Regions from separate parts of the Homo sapiens genome. Here regions 2 and 3 are each linked to region 1. Evidence: fine-mapped expression QTL. A gene starts in region 1. Each other region holds a variant in brackets. All regions are shown on one strand. Distances are between the middles of the regions.

Region 1 (6,466 bases):
ATTGCCTAGCCACCTCTGCTCCTACCCCTAAACTGTCTTTGAAACTACTCCTCAGAGACTGATTTGAGTAATTATAAAACTCCAGTCTTCCTTTCAGCCAGCTCTGCATGAATTAAACTGTTTCCCCATTGCAATTCCCCTGCCTTCATAAATTGGCTGGCTCTATCTGGGCAGCAGGCAAAAAGAACCCATTGGGGGATTACATAGCCACTCCTCATCGGAGAAATTTCTACTGGCTCTTCTTCCAGCCTCAACTCTCTTTGGCTAATCTTTCTCTATATGTAGCCTTCACTTCTTTTCATCTTTCTCTCTTCTTTCCTCTCCTAGGAGCAAAACAAAATTTCTCCTGGGCCGCACAGTTTGGCAATTATCTTTTGTTGCCTTGGCTGCAGCTACTATGCCATCAGCTCCCAACTCCTAACTTCAATGAACCAAGGAGGTATTTTTCTTAAACAAAGACCACTCCAACCCTGAAGATTGGAATTTCGCCACTGCCTGTAAGGATAACAAGCTTTAATCTGGTTTCTACATGTGGTTTTTGTTTATTTTGTTCCTGTGATTATAAACTGTAATGAAAAAAGAAAATGTTACTGTAATACTTGATATCATGTATTTATCCATGTATCCAACCTTCTTTCCATCCTATCCATCAATCCATCTTATATTCTGGATACTTTTTTTTTTTTTAAGAGACATGGTCTCACTATATTGTCCAGGCTGGTCTCAAACTTCTAGGCTCAATCAATCATCCCACCTTGGTCTCCCAAAGAGCTGGATTACAGGCATAGGTCACTGTGCCAGCATCTGGATACATTTCAAAGAAAATTGTATACATTGGTACACCTTCCCCTAAACACTTTAATATGAATATCATTAACTAGAGGTGACATTTTATTTATATTTTTTCCTTTTGAAGTCATATTAGCGTATTATAAAATGCACAATTTTTTTGTGCGTGTGTGAGATGGGGTCTTACTCTGTCACCCAGGCTGGAGTGCAGTGGCACCATCTTGGCTCACTGCAACCTCCACCTCCTGGGTTCAAGCGATTCTCATGCCTTAGCCTCCCGAGTAGTTAAGACCACAAGCAAGTGCCACCACACCCAGCTAATTTTTGTATTTTTGTAGAAATGGGGTTTCACTATGTTGGCCAGGCTGGTCTCAAACCCCCGACCTCAAGTAATCTGCCCACCTCGGCCTCCCAAAGTGCTGGGATTACAGGTGTGAGCCACCTTGCGCCCTGGGCTGTAGTGTTATTTTTGTGGCAAAAAAATTGAAACCCTAAAATTCTGACTGCAGTGGAAGGGTAAGTGTATTTCAAGCCCTAGTGATACAGACCAACTTGGAAGCTTCAGACAGGAAAAGTTTGCTAGATAGTTATTTATTTTTAACTAAGCATGTACTTTTATGTATCTCCCATATGGCATGGAACACCTGCTCACTGCAGCCTGGAGCTCCTGGGCTCAAGTGATCCTCCCACCTCAGCCTTCTGAGTAGCTTGGACAGCAGGCGCGTGTCACCACATCAGTTAATTTTTGTTATTTTTTGTAGAGAGGGGGTCTCAATATGTTGCCCAGGCATTATGGATTTTATGCATTCGGGACCATCCCATGCTTAAAGCATGACAGAACCCGGCGGCATATTTTTCTCTGCCGCAGCTTTCAGTGCAGGGGCACCTCACAGGCAGGGCGGGGTCAAGGCTCTGTCCAGACAATGGCTGCAGAGTAAAAAGCACTTCCATTTATGGGGGTCAAGGGCGAGGGGAGGGAGAAAGGAGCAGGGAAAGAGGAGAAGTGGCCACATGTACTTTGATTTGTTTTTTGCTTTTTGTTACATGTACTTTTGAAGCAGTATTTAGAAGTAGCCTCTCCTACAGCCCCTGCTGTAGCTTGTCTCCTAGCTGTGAGGTGAGTTATTCAGTACCCTCTAACGTAAAAATGACCTTCAGACAGACAGACAGACACACACACACACACACACACACACACAGAGGAAAACAGCTCTGTCATCCACTTTTTCTTCCTTTCCCGTCCCCAGACCCTCGATTCTCTCTTTAAAATGACTGCTGTGAAGATAACGTAACACAGAGTAATACTAATGACAAATTATCAAAAAAGAAAAAAAAAATAAAAATCTTTATTAGTGTTTTTTAAAATGACGTAAAAGACTATGGGAAAAAATGCCAACAATAGTTATGTATAACTTTTTTGTTCATATTTCCAAAACGTTTATAACATACATAACTTTAAAAGAAAAATAATTTAAAAAATACATATCTGAAAATGAAACCCCGCTGTTTGCCAACGACCAGCTGGCTTAATCTGACTTCGCAGATGTAGCAGTGTTGGAAAACGTCGGTTCTTTTGCTGAGGGAAGGAAGAGATGGGAGGGGTAGAAAGGGCGGTGGTTATTCCCTTTAGTATTTCGATCCGGTCACACAACCTAAATCCAACATCTGCATCAAATGTCTCCTTTCCGAAATACTCTCCCTAAAATGACAGAGAACCTGGCCAGGCGGACAGAACGGCCCCTGCGCATTTGCAGGGGTCCTGGTGGGCTTGCCGGGCAGAGGGCGTGCGGGTCTCAGCAAGCTGCCGGGTCCGCCCAGGCCCCGCCCCATGCCCATTCAGGCCCCGCCCCCGACCCGCAGGCCCCGCCCCCGACCCGCCCCGTCCGCCTCCGTCACGTGATGGGGCGCCGGGTCCAGCCTGTTGCTGATGCTGCCGTGCGGTACTTGTCATGGAGCTGGCACTGCGGCGCTCTCCCGTCCCGCGGTGGTTGCTGCTGCTGCCGCTGCTGCTGGGCCTGAACGCAGGTAGGTTCAAGCAAGAGGCGCACCAGCTGCCATGCCTCTTTTTTCTCCAGGCGTGAGAGTTTGTTACTGGGTTTGTGCTTTTGAAAACATGTCTCTTTTCCCCGGTTCTTACCTTGTGTAATTATATTGCTTTTGAATCTCACTCTTTTTTTTTTTTTTCCTTAAAAAATTCAAAGTGCTTTTTTTGTCCTTTTCTGGCTCTGGGTGGTCTGAGTGCTTCCGTTCTCTCCTACGCCTAGATAGAAGCTGTGTGCAGAAATGTATGATTTGGGGAAACTGCTGGTCAATGAGGTTTCCCCGATTCAAAGGCCATGATTGGCTGCTAAATGAGGATATAAGGTCGTTTTATTTTAAGCTGAAATCTGCGGTCAAAAGTACCCTTACATCCTACCACGAATGGGACATTTCATTGAGATAAGGCCCTTTCTTTTCTTGATCAAAACAAACAAGATAACATCTTCCCCCACAGCGATCTTTTTTGGCAAAAAACAGATTTGTGTTTAATAGGATGACTTGCAAATTGATTTTCAGCAAAACCTCTCCTAGTCTGAAGCAAGCACTGAGAATTGGAACTGGCCACAAGCTTGCCTTGTGACCTTAGGCAAGTTGTTGAACAGTTTTGTTTTCCTTTTCTAAAATGGGGATCATCTGGCCCTTAGGCGAGTGTCTGGGAGATTTTGTAAAATAAGTAGCTCTGCCAATTTTACCAGTAGTCACTGCCAGGCAAGGGAGAAGTGCCTGGGGTTAGGTCAAAAGGTACCTGCGCCTTATCTGTCATTCTCAAGGGAGCGCAGCCTTATCTGTTATTGTCAAGGACAATATAATCGTGTGTTACTTGTATATAGAACCTTATAGCTAAGTCTGTAATGTTTTAGTCATCTGTTTTGCTCCTCAGGACACTTTCTGGTTTTCTTAATCTTCATTGTTGTTTTGTTTTGAGTCAGGGTCTCACTATGTTGCCCAGGCTGGTCTGGAACTGCCTGACTCAAGTGATCTTCCTACTTCAGCATCCCAAGTAGCCCGGACTGCAGACACAGGCCACCACCCTGGCTCTTTCTTATTTACAAGACGTTGTCTCATTGTCTTCCTCTCTACTCCTGTCTCTTTAGCTGTTGGGACCAGTGTTCTTTTACTGACCAATGGGGCTTGAAATTTGAGAAGGGAGGAAATAGAAGGCAGAAAACTCCAGTCACCGAGGGGATCCCCCCCATCATCTTTTAACAACAGCCCCTCTACTTTTTTTTTTCCCAGAGTGGTTTTGGAGGAAAAAAAAAAAGATGCTATAACTTGGAAATTGTTACGTTAGCAAAAAGTGACAAAGAAAATGTATTTAGCCTACTCTTTTCTAAAACATATTTTGTGGATGCTAGAAAAGTTAAGTAAGGAAAATTGGAGTTAGGGGATTATAGGATACGTATATTAAACACACATACACAGATATATATCGTTCAGTTTAAAAAAATCATCTACATGAGTTAGGAAAATTGCCCTTTTTCATATTTGTTGTAGCTCTTTCCTTGCTGTTTGCCTTTTTATTTTTGATTTACAGAAATTTTGTTGTATAGAAATATAACAAGTTTCTGTTCTCACCTCCATCATTGTTTCTTTTGTACAGTCTCTGGGGTTTGCTTAGATTCTTTCCTCATCCAGACATTAGAAATATATTTAACTATATTTTTGTATTTTTTTAATGTTTAAAGTTTAAAATTTAATTGCTTGATCCTCATGGAACTTATTTCGTTTATAGTGTTGAGAGGACCTAAATTTCTCTTTTTTTCTCCAAAAAAGGTAATTGTTGCTCCATTACTGTATATTGAATATTCTCAGCCCCACTAATTTGTGATGCCTCTTCACTCATGTTTTTTGTTTGTTTGGTTGGTTGGTTTTTTGTTTTTTTGAGATAGGATCTCCCTCTGTCACCTAGGCTGGAGTGCACTGGTGTGATCACAGCTCACTGCAGCCTCAACCTACTGGGCTCAAGCGATTCTCCTACCTCTGTCTCCTGAGTAGCTGGGACCACAGGCATATGCCACAATGCCCAGCTAATTTTTGCATTTTTTGTAGAGATGGGGTGTTGCTATGTTGCTTAGACTGGTTTTGAACTCCTATGCACAAGCTATCAGCCTGTCTTGGCCTTCCAAAGTGTTGGGATTACAGGAGTGAGCCACCAAGCCTGGTGTCTTACTCATGTATTAAATACGATATAAAAACCAGTATATTGCATTCTGAGATTTTTACTTTTTTACTCAAAATATAAATCTCTCTTGTTTTTACAGAATTATAAAAGTATTTCCTGTAATCCCAGCACTTTGGTAGGCCTAGGCGGGCAGATCACCTGAGGTCAGGAGTGCGAGACCAGCCTGACCAACATGGAGAAACCCCATCTCTACTAAAAATACAAAATTAGCCAGGCGTGGTGGTGCATGCCTGTAATCCTAGCTACTTGGAAGGCTGAGGCAGGAGAATCGCTTGAACCCGGAAGGCAGAGGTTGCGGTGAGCCGAGATTGCGCCATTGCATTCCAGCCTGGGCAACAAGAGCGAGACTTCGTATCAAAAAAAAAAAAAAAAAAAAAAAAGTGTTTCATATTTATTGTTAAAAATCCAAACATTACAGAAAAGTGTAGAGGAAAAAGTGAAAGCCCCTGGCCTCCTATGCCGCTGTTAAGTTTGGTTTCTTTTTTCATAGCCGAGGTTTTTTCCTTATTCCTGCAATGTACTGGGGTGGCTAAATTACCAAACTATAAAACAAATCATCTCTAGCCTAGCATGGCTGTCTCTACCAGGCTTGGAATTTACCTGTACATTAGGCACTCTTCTGGAGAGTGAAATTGAACTTCTGTTTCAGGAGCTGTCATTGACTGGCCCACAGAGGAGGGCAAGGAAGTATGGGATTATGTGACGGTCCGCAAGGATGCCTACATGTTCTGGTGGCTCTATTATGCCACCAACTCCTGCAAGAACTTCTCAGAACTGCCCCTGGTCATGTGGCTTCAGGTAAAGTAGCTTCCCAGCCTGGCCTGAGGTCAAAGCCAAGTCTCCTCTGTGTGGCTCTTTGCTTGCTTTTTGGGCTGATGTCTCAGCAGTGAAGGGCGGATTTGGTCCAGCAGTGTGACCTGGGGGTTCGGCGTGCTTCTGAGGTAGGCTGAGGCAATGGTATAGCCAAGGAGGCTAAATCAGAGGGCGAGGGGGTTCTAGCCTTTTGCCAGAGTCTCTTTATATTTCCAGACGGTCACAAGAAGGCTCACTGAAAACTCCTGATGATACATTTGAATACATAGTGATAGAAAGTGTTTTGAGGCCGGGCACAGTGGCTCATGTCTGTAATCCCAGAACTTTGGGAGGCCGAGGTGGGTGGATCATACGAGGCCAGGAGTTCGAGACCAGGCTGGCCGACATAGTGAAACGCTGTCTCTACTAAAAATATTTAATACAAAAATTATCCAGGCATGGTAGCACATACCTATAATCCCAGCTACTCAGATGGTTGAGGCATGAGAATTGCTTGGACCCGGGAGGCGGAGGTAGCAGTGAGCTGAGATCGTGCCACTGCGCTCCAGCCTGGGCGACAGAGCAAGACCCTATCTCAAAAGAAAAAAGAAAAGAAAGTGTTATGGAAGGTTCCAAAGCAAAGACCTGAGGTAGCCTGACCCT
Region 2 (6,466 bases), 53 kb after region 1:
CCATGTGAGGTGCCTGCTCCCCCTTCACCTTCACCATGACTGTAAGTTTCCTGAGGCCTCCCAAGAAGCCGAGCAGATGCCAGCACCATGCTACCTGTATAACATGCAGAACCATGAGCCAATTAAACCTCTTTTCTTTACACATTACCCAGTCTCAGGTATTTCTTTTTTTTTTTTTTTTTGAGACGGAGTCTCACTCTGTTGCCCAGGGTGGAGTGCAGTGGTGCGATCTCGGCTCATTGCAAGCTCTGCCTCCAGGGTTTATGCCATTCTCCTGCCTCAGCCTCCCGAAGTGCTGGGACTACAGGCGCCCACCACCACGCCTGGCTAATTTTTTGTATTTTTAGTAGAGATGGGGTTTCACCGTGTTAGCCAGGATGGTCTCGATCTCCTGACCTCGTGATCCGCCCACCTCGGCCTCCCAATCAGGTATTTCTTTATAGCAATGTGAGAATGGACTAACAAACATTACCTGAGTTCTGTGAGCTGTTTTAGCAAATGATTAAACTCAAGAAAGGGATCATGGGACCCTCTGACTCATAGCCTGTCAGAAGCACCAGGTGACAAGCTGGACTTTTGATTGGCAACCGACTGTGGGGTAGGTACTAACTTCAGATAGATCATGTCAGAACTGAATTGAATTGTAGGATACCCAGCTGGTATCTCCAGAGAATTGGAGAATTGCTTGGTATAGGAACCCCTGCTACACACACACATCTGGTGTCACAAGTGAAGTACTGAGTTTTTCCTTTCGTTGTGAAGAAGAAAACCCTTTTTATTCTAAATGCCTTGTGTTTGGTGTCATTGAAGCTACATAGTGTCTTAGTTCTTTCCGGCTGCTATAACAAAATTACCTTAGACTAGGGCATTTATAAATGACAGAAATTTATTCCTCATAGTTCTGGAGTCTGGAAAGTGCAAAATCAAGATGCCAGCAGGTTTGGTGTCTGGTGAGGGCCCTTTCATGAGGGTTCCGCTCCCATTAACCACTCCTAAAGGCCCTATTTCTTTTTTTTTTTAATTATTTTTTTGTAGAGGGTCTCACTATTTTGACTAGGCTGGTCTCAAGTTTCTGGCTTCAAGCAATTCTCCCACCTCGGCCGCCCAAAGTGCTGAGATTACAGGCAAGAGGCACTTGTGCCAGTCCCATTTCTTTTTCTTTTTCTTTTTTGAGATGGAGTTTCACTCTTGTTGCCCAGGCTGGAGTGCAATGGCACGATCTCAGCTCACCACAACCTCTGCTTTTGGGGTTCAAGTGATTCTTCTGCCTCAGCCTCCAGAATAGCTGGGATTACAAGCATGCTCCACCATGCCTGGCTAATTTTTTGTTGAGATGGGCTTTCTCCATGTTGGTCAGGCTGGTCTCAAACTCCCGACCTCAGGTGATCCACCTGCCTCAGCCTCCCAAAGTGCTGGGATTACAGGTGTGAGCCACTGCCCCTGGCCCCTAGCCCCACTTCTTTAGTACTATCCCATAGGCAATTAGGTTCCAATATATGGGGAGATAGGACATTTCTGCTGGGCTTGAACACCTACATTTTTAAAATAAAATTTAAAAACAACCATAATACCATCATCACTCCCCTACTACCCCCCAAGTGAAAAATATCTTAGTATCATCAAATATCCAAAGCCCACGTAGACTACAAATTTATTTCCACCAATTCAAATTCCTGGGCTGGAGCATCTGATTAGTGGGTCTACAGGACTACTCTGTATCTACCAAGGAGGAGAGAGAGGAAAGGTATAACCTCATTGAGGCCCCAATAGCTTCTCATCAGAGGATTCTGCCTGATGCTGGCAAGACAAAAAAAAAAAAAGAGTTTTGCCAGGCGCGGTGGCTCACATCTGTAATCTCAACACTTTGGAAGGCTGAGGCAGGTGGATTGCTTAAGTCTAGGAGTTCAAGACCAGCCTGGGCAACATAGGGAGACCCCATTTCTACAAAAAATTTTTAAAATTAGCCAGGCATGGTGGTGAGCACCTATAGTCCCAGCTACTCAAGGAGGCTGACGTGGGAGAATCGCTTGAGCCTGGGAGGTCAAGGTAGTGAGCCACGATCATGCCACTATACTCCAGCCTGGACAACTAAGTGAGGCTCTTCCCCCGCTCCAAAAAAAAAGAAAAAAAAAAAAAGAAATGACTTCCCATTACAAGTGGTGTCAGCAATAATGCAGAAGAGAGGGAATGGCCAGAAAAGCTTTTGGACAGGAGGTCAGATTAAACTGAGCTCTATGAGATGGGTAGAGTATAGGTATCTAGAGATGGGTAGAGTGTAGGTACCTAAAGATGGGTAAAGTGTAGGTAACTAGAGAGACTAGAGGATAGGATATTTTTTATTTTATTTTTCCTTCTTTGTGATGGAGTTTCACTCTTGTTGCCGAGGCTGGAGTGCCATGGCGCCATCTCGGTCCACTGCAACCTCTGCCTCCCGGGTTCAAGCAATTCTTCTGCCCCAGCCTCCAGAGTAGCTGGGATTACAAGCATGTGCCACCACAACCAGCTAATGTTATATTTTTAGTAGAGACAGTTTTCACCATGTTGGCCAGGCCGGTCTCAAACTCCTAACCTCAGGTGATCCACCCGTCTTGGCCTCCCAAAGTGCTGGGATTACAGGCATGAGCCACCACGCCCAGCAATATTTTTTATTTCTAATAAAATAATAAGTGTAATAGTAACAAAATTTAGAAAATAAAGAAATGTAGGAAAATAGTTATTAAAAGTCTCATTACCCAAAAAAGTCATTTGGCTTAATTCATATCCCTATATTTTTTATTTAA[C/CG]GGGCATTATAAGAATTTATCTATGTTACTGTGGGTTCTTTGTCAGTATAATTTTTTTTTAAAGAGAGAAGGTCTTGCTCTGTTGTCCAAGCTGGAGAACAGAGTGCAGTGGTATGGTCATAGCTCACAGCAGCCTTGAACCTCTGTGCTCAAGTGATCCTTCTGCCTCAGCCTCCTGCATAGCTGGGACTACAGGTGCCACCACCACACCCCGCTAATTTTTCAATTTTTTGTAGAGACAAAGTCTCATTTTGTTTCCCAGACTGGTGTTGAACTCCTGGCCTCAAGTGACCCTCCTGCCTTGGCCTCCTGAAGGGCTGGGATTACAGGCCTGAGCCACTGTGTCTGGCCTTGTAAATATCATTTTTTAACAGATACATAATATTCCATTAAGAAAATGTTCTACACTTCATCTGACCAGTCCTCCATATTTTGACATTTATTCAAATTTCAGTTTTTCTTTTCTTTTTTTTTTTTTTTTTCAGACAGGGTCTCATTCTGTCACCCAGCTGGAGTGCAGTGGTGCCATCTTGGCTCACTGCAACCTCGACATCCCTGGCTCATGTGATCTTCTCACCTCAGCTTCCCAAGTAGCTGGGATTACAAGTGTGCACCACCATGCCTGGCTTATTTTTTAAATTTTTTTTGTAGAGACAGGGTTTCACCATGTTGCCCAGACTGATCTCAAACTCCTGGGCTCTAGCAATCGCCCACCTGGGCCTCTCAAAGTGTCATTTCAGTTTTTCTGATTATAAATAACTGTGATGAACATTATTTTGCTTAAAGCTTTTTCTGGTTTTAGAGTTATTTAATTACTATGGACTCCCAAAAGCAAAATTCTGGTAAAATGTTGTATAAATATTATAAAGAGTGGGGGTATTTCTGATACTGATTTTATACCACCTTATATTGTTATTTAGTAATCTCAAGAGGTGTTTCAAATTCTCAAGGCAAAATTGATAGAAATTGGTAAATTTTAAGACCATAGGCCCTAGGGTGTATAGCATAGAGGCAGAATTTTTAACTGCGCACACAGCGATCCAGAAAAAAAAAAAAAAATACTACATTTCCCAGCAGTTAAGTGTGGCCACGTGACTACGTTCTGGCCACCGGGATATAAACAGAAGTGTTCTGGCAGCAGCTGGAAACCGTCCCCTTTGGTGTACCTTTTGTTCCCTTTCACCCTCTTTTATTTTGCTGGCTGGAATGTGAATGCAACCATTTGGGATCATGGTAGGAAGATATGCTAGAATGAGCCGAGGTCCCCGAGGATTTTGAGGACTGGAGCCACCATTCCACCTTTGTACTCCTTTTCTCTCTTTACATGGAAATAAATTTTTGTCTTAAGCTACTGTTGGTTTGGGTTTTCTACCACTTACAGCCATGCCTAATTCTGACTAAATACAATGTGGTTTTAAAACTGGGACAGGCATTGTTATACTCTTCTTCATAAGCCCAGAGTAGCTGAGAAATGTTGCCATGGGAAAAAAACATTACAGGCCGGGCACGGTGGCTCATGCCTGTAATCCCAACACTTTGGGAGGCCGAGCTGGCAGATCACCTGAGGTCAGGAGTTCGAGACCAGCCTGGCCAACATGGTCAAACCCCGTCTCTATTAAGAATACAAAAATTAGCTGGGTGTGCTGGCAGGTGCCTGTAATCCCAGCTACTCAGGAGGAGGGTGAGGCAGGAGAATCACTTGAACCTGGGAGGCGGAGATTGCAGTGAGCCGAGACCGTGCCACTGCACTCCAGCCTGGGCAACAAGAGCAAAACTCCGTCTCAAAAAAAAAAAAAAAAAAAAATTTCAAATGTACTTTGAGATCAGGTCACGAGGAGGTTTGACTTTTTAAGTGTTCCTGATTCTAACAGAAAAGAAAACATTAGTGTCAGCAGCAGGAAATTTCAAGTAAAACTATAGGATTCGTGACGTCCAACTTCTAATTTAGTTGCTTCAAGTGTAAAGGCAAAAAGGAGTTGTGGGGTAGAGGGGAGAAAACTGGTTTGTCTTGTTTCCAAGGATTACTGCCCCTACTTCAAGAGCTATTAAAAGGTCCTCTTGAGAGAACTGTAACCAAAAATAAAGTGGCACTGGCAACTCTCTGGGAACACATTTAACTCTGCTCGTAGAAGCATAGCCTGTTTTAATTGGCTAAAGCCCAAGCCAGGCCCTGTTTTCATCTGAATTAGGAAAAAGCAACTGCTGAGAAAATATTTAAAAATAACTATACCAATGTAAAAAAGCAAAGAAAAAAAAAAAACAAACAAAACCCCAAAACCCTAAATTAAAAGAACATGTGTTCGAATGTACTTGGTTAAAGCCAGATGCAGTGGCTCGCACCTGTAATCCCAGCCCTTTGGGAGGCCAACATGGAGGATCGCTTGAGCTCAGGAGTTCAAGACCAGCCTGGGCAACATAGGGAGACCCTCTCTCTATTTATTTTAATTTTTTTTAAACAATGTACTTAAAGTAAATCAAATCTGGTGAAGACACAGATGCTTTGGGGCTCAGATCTATATGTTAGGATTGGGAATTTGTATTTTTGTTTCTCAAAAGTGGTCACTGACTGGGTACAATGGCTCAGACATGTAACCTCAGCACTTTGGGAGGCCAAGGTGGGAGGATCATTTGAGCCCAGGAGTTCTAGACCAGCCTGGGCAATATAGTGAGATCCTATCTCTACAAATAAAAATAAAAATAAAAATAAAAATAAAAAAAATGCCAGGCATGGTGGTGCATGCTTGTAGTTCCAGTTACTTAAGAGTGTGGGGTGGGAGAATCACTTGAGCCCAGGAAGTTGAGGCTGCAGTGAGCTATGATCATGCCACTGCACTGCAACCTGGGTGACAGAGTGAGACCCTGTCTCAAAACAAAAGAAAAATGTGGTCACTTCAGGGGGCAGTGAAGTAAGTGCAATATTTTGCTGTGATGTTTACAAGCAATCTTGGTATTTGATCTTTTCTGCCATTAGAATTTGTCAGCCAAGCTGGGCACAGTGGCTCATGCCTGGAATCCCAGCACTTTGGGAGGCCAAGGTGGGAGGATCGCTTGAGCCAAGGAGTTATAGACAAGCCTGGGCAACACGGTGAAACCCTGCCTCTACAAAAAAAAAAACAAAAATTAGCCAAGTATGGTGGTGCATGCCTGTAGTCCTAATTACTTGGGAGGCTGAGGTGGGAGGACCACGTGAGCTGTGATGGCACCGCTGCATCTAGCCTGGGTGACAGTGAGACCCTGCCTCAAAAGAAGAAAAAGGAATTTGTCAGCTGAGAGCATTAGGGCCAGACTCAAAACCAAGAGCTGCATCCAACTGACTCCCTCTGGAATTAAATAGCATCATCAGTGACATACCTTAGTCTGGTGTCCTCTGGCATACAGAACTCACCCTAGACTAGATTGCCCCTGTCAATGTCCCTCTTCCAACCTACATGTGATATGTCCTGACAAGTTTCTGCAAGATTTCTTCTTTTCCCCAAACTGACCCCAGATTAAAGCTTCAGGAGCTTGCTCTCAACCAAGCTGAAAAGGGGCCATTCAATTTGTGACTCCATATGGCAAGATGTTCATCCAAGCCAGCTTCCTTCTGCCAGCCTGCATACCTTCAGACTCCTCCAAACAATCAGGGGCTGTTCACCTGGGGACAGCAAACAAAGTTGGATGTTGTCTTTGGCAAAGTATAAAAAAGG
Region 3 (6,466 bases), 46 kb before region 1:
ATGATCAAGTTGTCATATTATTATTAAGCTTTGGTTTGCTTAGGGAAAAAATTGAGAATAAAATTTGTTTAAATTAAGGTTATTACATCTGTGTATCTCTCTGTATGCCCTTTTAAAGTACTTGTGACATTGAGTTACAGGGCTTTGACTCCTGGGTCCAAAAAGAACACCAAGTCTTGCTAAATCTTAAATACTGGCAGCAATTAAAGCCTCATCTTCAGGCCCAATAGAAGATGCTAATCAAAACAAACTGCATTCCTGAGACACAGGGCCAGAAATTAAAGCTATTCAACTCCTCAAGGCCCAGGGACTATTGCAGAAGAGGTGGGCATGTGAGATTGTAAGGGCTGATTTTGAGAGATAAAATAAGTTCAGTTTCTCTATAAATTAATCATTAATGTCAAAGGCACACTGATGCAAGACCAGCATATGGGCCCCTGTGTCAAATTAACAAGGTTTTCTTGAAGCATTAACCAACTCCTTATTAAAGGTTATAAAGGTTTATGGAAGTTATATCTTATGGTCAAGATAAAAATTTTATAGATTGCTTATAAAATTTTGGAAAAAAATTTAATTGTCTTCATGCCGTTTTTATTAGGGCTTATCATTTGGAAAATTAAGTCTCCTGTCTCAAAGAATGAAGGTTTTTGCCTTTTTAAAAAATCTTTGAATTATTACTTTGGTTAAATGAATGACTTATTTTACAATGGCCTGGGATCCTATTTTGTAATATCAAGTGTTTTAAACTTTTGGTATTTGACAAAGTTTCCAAAATTAAATGATAAATTATCTCTTTCTGACCTAAGTAACTCTTTAAGATATTAATAGGTTCCCTAAAGTCCAAAAATGACATATTTGGCTTACTTGGTATAAAAATTATACAGGAAGCATTGACAAATATGAAATGGTGTTTGGTTTTCTTTGGGCTGTATTTGTATAAATATGTTAGTCATATATGTTCCAAAATTATGGGAAACTCCTATAATACTGATATGACTTAATGTATGTTATCAGTAATAATTGTTACATTAAAGTATTACGTGCCACAGAAGTGACAGATTTCCTGTCAATTGTGTCTTTGACTATGGCTGCACTAAAACTTTTTGTCATCCACAGACAATTTTTGTCTTGTTTTGGTCCTCTTTAGAAGGTGGTTTTATAATCAGCTATAAAACTCTAATAGGTGCTCTTGAATGCAGGTTTCTGATAACTTTGGAGATTGTGACATCAGAATTAAGGAAAAACTTTCAGTACTCATGGAGAGCTTAAATGTTCATGAATATCACGCAGAACAGGAATTCACTGCATAGACTAAACTAATAGAAGTCTGAAGTAATCTTTTTAACTTTTTGCTTAAAGTGTTGCTGATCCTTTGTTTCGTTTTTCAGAATGAAGAAAACTTTTCTTTTAAGCTATTTACAGCTTTTAACAATTGAGTATGCACCCATGAACAAAATTTGGAGTCTATTTGTTTCTCTCTACCTGATTTCTACATAATTTGGAAACTGTGAGTGTTCTTAACTTATGACAATACAGTTATTTGCATAAGTGCAATAAGAATCTGTTTTAATTTGTAACAGGACACAACTGGAGAAACTAGTTATTTTACTAAGGCTTTGACTGGAATGGTGTGCTTTAAGGAATCAAACTTGACTTATAGAGCCAGTAGGAACCCCTTGGAAAAACTGGCCTCATACCTTTGTCTACAGTTCCTGTACAGGGTTTCTGACCTGTGATAAGTAAAGAATGTCACTTTCTGACAGGCCCAGGAGCACCAAGTTTATCTTGGAACCACAAGAGGAGAGGAATCACCCAACTCATAGGTATTTGATGGTACAAATCCATGGCCACGTTCAGCTTTTAAAAAGTCTTATCTGAGATTCCTTCTATGGAACAAAGTTCCATCAAAGCCAATTTAAAAGCCTATGTAAAAAAAAATTATCCTTGCTGCACTATATACAAATAATTAGGCCAAGTATAATAATGCAAATCAGTCCCATAATGATCTGTCTTTAGTAAAAATGGGAAACTGGAGAGAGAAAAATTGTTTCAAAAACTATAGTACACATGTTGCTAGATTCTAATCTTGCCTAATATTTTTCATTTTTATTATTTTTTACAGTTTGGACTGAATTCTAATTTTTCTTAGCTACAACTCTTCAAAATAATGTTTCCATTATTTTTCCTTTTTCCCCATTTTTCATAATTTGGAGTCAATAAAAACTAAGCTGTGCTTTTGTAAAGTTGTATGGCCAGGCACAGTGGCTCTTGCCTGTAATTCCAGCACTTTGGGAGGCTGAGGCGTGTGGACCACTTGAGGTCAAGAGTTCATGACCAGCCTGGCCAATGTGGTGAAACCCTATTTCTACTAAAAATACAAAAATTAGTCAAGCGTGGTGGTGCATGCCTGTAATCTTAGCTATTCAGGAGGCTGAGGCAGGAGAATCGCATGAACCTGGGAGGCAGAGGTTGCAGTGAGCCGAGATAGTGCCACTGCACTCCAGCCCGGATGTCTCAAAAAAAAAAAAGCAGCAGCTCCTTACCCATCAGTCCCTCTGCAGAGCAGTCAGTGACTATTATTACGTTTCATGCATGTCCTTCCAGAACATTTTTATCCATATCCTACATCAGGAGCCTTTTTTTTTTTTTGGAAAAAGTCTCACTCTTGTCACTCAGGCTGAAGTGCAGTGACATGGTGACAGCTCACTGCAGCCTCAACCTCCCAGGCTCAAGTGATTCTCCCACCTCAGCCTCCCAAGTAGCTAGGACTACAGGCATACCACCACACCCAAGGAGCTTCCTTTTAAAATTCAAATGAGAAATAAACTCTGTAAGTATATAATGTGCTATAATTTACTTTTTCACTTAATTCTGCACCTGTTTCTTTATGGGACATAGTGGTTGAGTACAAGTTCTGGAGAAGACAACCTGTGTTTGAATCAGGCTCTTTCATTCACTGTATTCATAGGCAAGGAGTTTAACCTCTGTGCCTCAGTTTCCTCTTCTGTGAAAGGGAGAAAATAACAGTACCTATCTCCTAAGTTATGTAAATGAATTAATACCTGTAAAGTGCTTGGAAAAACAGCTGGCACATAGCTACTGTCATTTCTACTCTCCAAAGCTTCCTTGTGATAATTTTCTTGTCTCCAGCTGTGGGTCTCCATCTGGGGCCACAGTGGCAGTGATGGCTTCTCCTATGCTGATGGTGGCCAGGCCAACATGATGGTAGGGATAGTCAGGGCTGGTCAGGGCATTCTGGTCCTAAACTACTAATTCCTTGCCCCTAAACCAACTGCTCTGTTGCAAAGCACTGGTATGCTCAAATGGCTCACATTACCTGCATTCCAAGACTTTGAGCTCTACAGCTCTGCTTACCCCAAT[G/A]TACCCTACAAATATCATTATTTTATTTTATTTTTTCAAGACAGTCTTTGCTCTGTCATTTAGGCTGGAGTGCAGTGGTGCAATCATAGCTCACTGCAGCCTTGACCTCTTGGGCTCAAGTGATCCTCCCACTGCAGCCTCCTGAGTAGCTGAAATTATAGGCACACACCACCAAGCCCAGCTAATTTGTTTCTATTTTTCTGTAGAGATGCGGTCTCGCTATGTGCCCAGGCTGGTCTGGAATACCTGGCCTCCAGCAATCCTCCCACCTCAGTCTCCCAGTGTTGGAATTACAGGCATGAGCCACTGCACCCTGTCCAGACATTACCTTAATTGCCAATTTTTTTTTTTTGAGACCGAGTTTCGCTCTGTCACCAGGCTGGAGTGCAGTGGCGTGATCTAATTGCCACATTTTATATGATGAAACCCTGCCAAAACCCTGTAAATGGTGTCTCTAAATCTGGTCCCTTATCATGTGGGTTTGTGTTACTGCAAGGTTAATAAAATGATTGAGGCGAGCATCTGCAGAAGACAGGAGGCAAACACCATTCCCACTATATCCCAACTGCATTCCTCTGGGGTTTCACTGTGCTTATTTTCCTGTAATCTCTCACTAATCCATCTGTGAATGACTTCTCTCTCCTGTTCAATTTAATAACCCCACAAAACTGGGTTGGGTTTTTTTGTTTTGTTTTTGTGACAGTCTCACTCTGTCGCCCAGGCTGGACCACGGTGGTGCCATCTCAGCTCACTGCAACCTCCGCCTCCCAGGTTCAAGCAATTCTCCTGCCTCAGCCTCCCGAGTAGCTGGGATTACAGGCACCCGCCACCATGCCCAGATAATTTTTGTATTTTTAGTAGATAGAGACAGGGTTTTGCCATGTTGGCCAGGCTGGCCTCATACTCCTGACCTCAGTGATCTGCCCACCTTGACTTCCCAAAGTGCTAGGGTTACAGGCATGAGCCACCACACCCAGCTGCTGTTGTCTTAATATAACCTCTTTGAAAGTGGGATCATTTGTTTTAAGTGGCTAGAGCAGTGGGAAGAAAGCTATGTCAATTCAACATCAGAAGACACAACGGTTAGGAGACAATGGATGAATGTAGTCAGCAGAAATCTTCCAAGCCCTACAAGATAAAAGTATCTCTGATGAGAAATAGGTGACTGATTTCCTCCTACCCAAAGATGTAACTAGAGTTTAAATATGGCAGCTACATGAAATGTGGCACACATTGTTTGTAACAGATGAAAATAAATTTAAAAGGATGGGATGCAAGTTCTGCTGAAAATTTGGAGCAGGACCTTAGGCAAGTCACAAAATAGAAACATAAATAATAACATCTCATGCGCACTTAACGATGTACAAGGTCTTGTGCTAACTGCTTTGCATGCATCATCTCATTCCGTCCTCACCACACTACTGTTGGTGGGTACATTGATGAGGAAATTGAGGCTTAGAGGGGTTAGAACTTGCCTAAGGTGAAGTGACTAAGACCAAAGCAGAATTTGCACCTGGGTCATCACTGTGGCAGCCACATTCTAACCACTCACCATCTCTGTGATGTCATCTCCTCTTGAGTCTGTTGTCTCAGAAGTAAAGTGGAGGGTGGGGCTTCTTTATTTGGAAGGTGGCTTCTGGTTTTAACATTATAAGACCTTCCAATGGCCATAAGATCGGGTGCCTAAATTCCAGTTGAGACTCACTGTTTAGACCACTGCATTATTTCCTCATTGAGTCCATCAGAACACGGGAGATCCCAGCAGTAGATCCTTAAGTCATTTAATTAAAAAAAAAAAAGAACACGGGAGAGACATATTCTCATGGCTATCACATTCTCATGGGTACACCTGGTTGTTTCATGCACTGGGTGTTGATTGCACTCTTATATTTAGGCTGTGAACCTTTAGAGTGAACAACTATTTGAGGCAGGATGCAAATACCCTTTTGATTAAATTAATGTAACTTTTGCAGGCTGGGTGCGGTGGCTCATATCTGTAATCCAAGCACTTTGGGAGGCCGAAGTGAGCAGATCACTTGAGGCCAGGAGTTGCAGACCAGCCTGGCCAACATAGTGAAACCTGGTCTCTACTACAAATACAAAAAAAAGCCAGGTGCAATGGCGCACACCTGTAGTCCCAGCTGCTCAGGAGGCTGAGGCATCAAAATCGCTTGAGCCTGGGAGGCGGAGGTTGCAGTGAGCTGAAACCGTGCCACTGCACTCCAGCCTGGGTGACAGAGCAAGACTCTGTCTCAAAATATATATAACTTTTGCAAAGTGAAATGAATCCATCATAAGAATACCCCATGCTAATAACTCAGTCATTATTCTTTTTCTGAATATTAATGAGTTGAACTTTATTAATCACCCTCTTTTGAGTCTGATTAGAGGCTTAAGAGTAGATCAATACTTCTGCACATCTGCTGTGTGCCAGGGTCTAGTCTAGCATGATTTTAATTTTTCACTATAAGTCTGAGCATGGGTTAGGCCCATGCTGCAAATGAAGACACTCACCCTAGGTAACCTGGCTCAGATGTGGACCCAAATCTGACTTCAAAACCTGTTTTCTTTCCACGATGTCAGTGGTTCTCCAAGTGTGGTCTATGGACTCTTGCCCTCAAGACCCTTTTAGGGATCTGCAAGGTCAAAGCTACTATGATTATGTTGTCTTTTCACAGCATTGATGTTTGCTCTGATGGAGCAAAACCAATACGGAATGAACTGCTGCACTTCAGCATAAATCTGCTAGTGAGTGGCACCACTGGGCCACGCACTCATAGTAAGGGGCAAAGCCAACTGCCCTTAATATCCTTGATAGAGTAACAATTATTAACATTATTAAGTCTTGACCCTTAGAGACACACCTTCATAAGAATACATAAGCACTTCTGCATTCCATAATACAATGGTTGTCTCAAGGAACAGCACTTATGCAATTATTTGAATTGTAAGCTCAACTAGCCACATTTTTCATGAAAATACCATTTTTACTTGAAATACTGACAGAAAACTTGTGGTCATTCAGACTTGGGGATTGGTATACATTTTCTTTTTTGAGACGGAGTCTCGCTCTGTTGCCCAGGCT

Evidence for each region. PIP is the estimated chance that this variant, and not a neighbour inherited with it, causes the effect. A credible set is the group of variants that fine-mapping cannot tell apart.
Region 2: its variant is the best candidate, but not a certain one, in a credible set for the expression of SCPEP1 in gastroesophageal junction (GTEx, PIP 0.63).
Region 3: its variant is the best candidate, but not a certain one, in a credible set for the expression of SCPEP1 in blood mononuclear cells (TOPMed, PIP 0.66).

The regions. Positions count from the first base shown.
Region 1 is chr17:56,975,422-56,981,887 of GRCh38, forward strand. It overlaps SCPEP1 (serine carboxypeptidase 1), which reads left to right and starts at 2,710. Exons shown (of 13, transcript NM_021626.3): 1 at 2,710-2,814; 2 at 5,661-5,809. The coding sequence starts at 2,739. It overlaps LOC105371836 (a long non-coding RNA gene), which reads left to right. Exons shown (of 4, transcript XR_934875.4): 4 at 328-586. RefSeq lists a silencer at 2,593-2,652.
Region 2 is chr17:57,028,639-57,035,104 of GRCh38, forward strand. No RefSeq gene overlaps it. Among named protein-coding and RNA genes, the nearest start is that of AKAP1-DT, 53 kb to the right of the region's middle. The variant C/CG (reference allele first, on the strand shown) is at 2,781.
Region 3 is chr17:56,929,606-56,936,071 of GRCh38, forward strand. No RefSeq gene overlaps it. Among named protein-coding and RNA genes, the nearest start is that of TRIM25, 19 kb to the left of the region's middle. The variant G/A (reference allele first, on the strand shown) is at 3,382.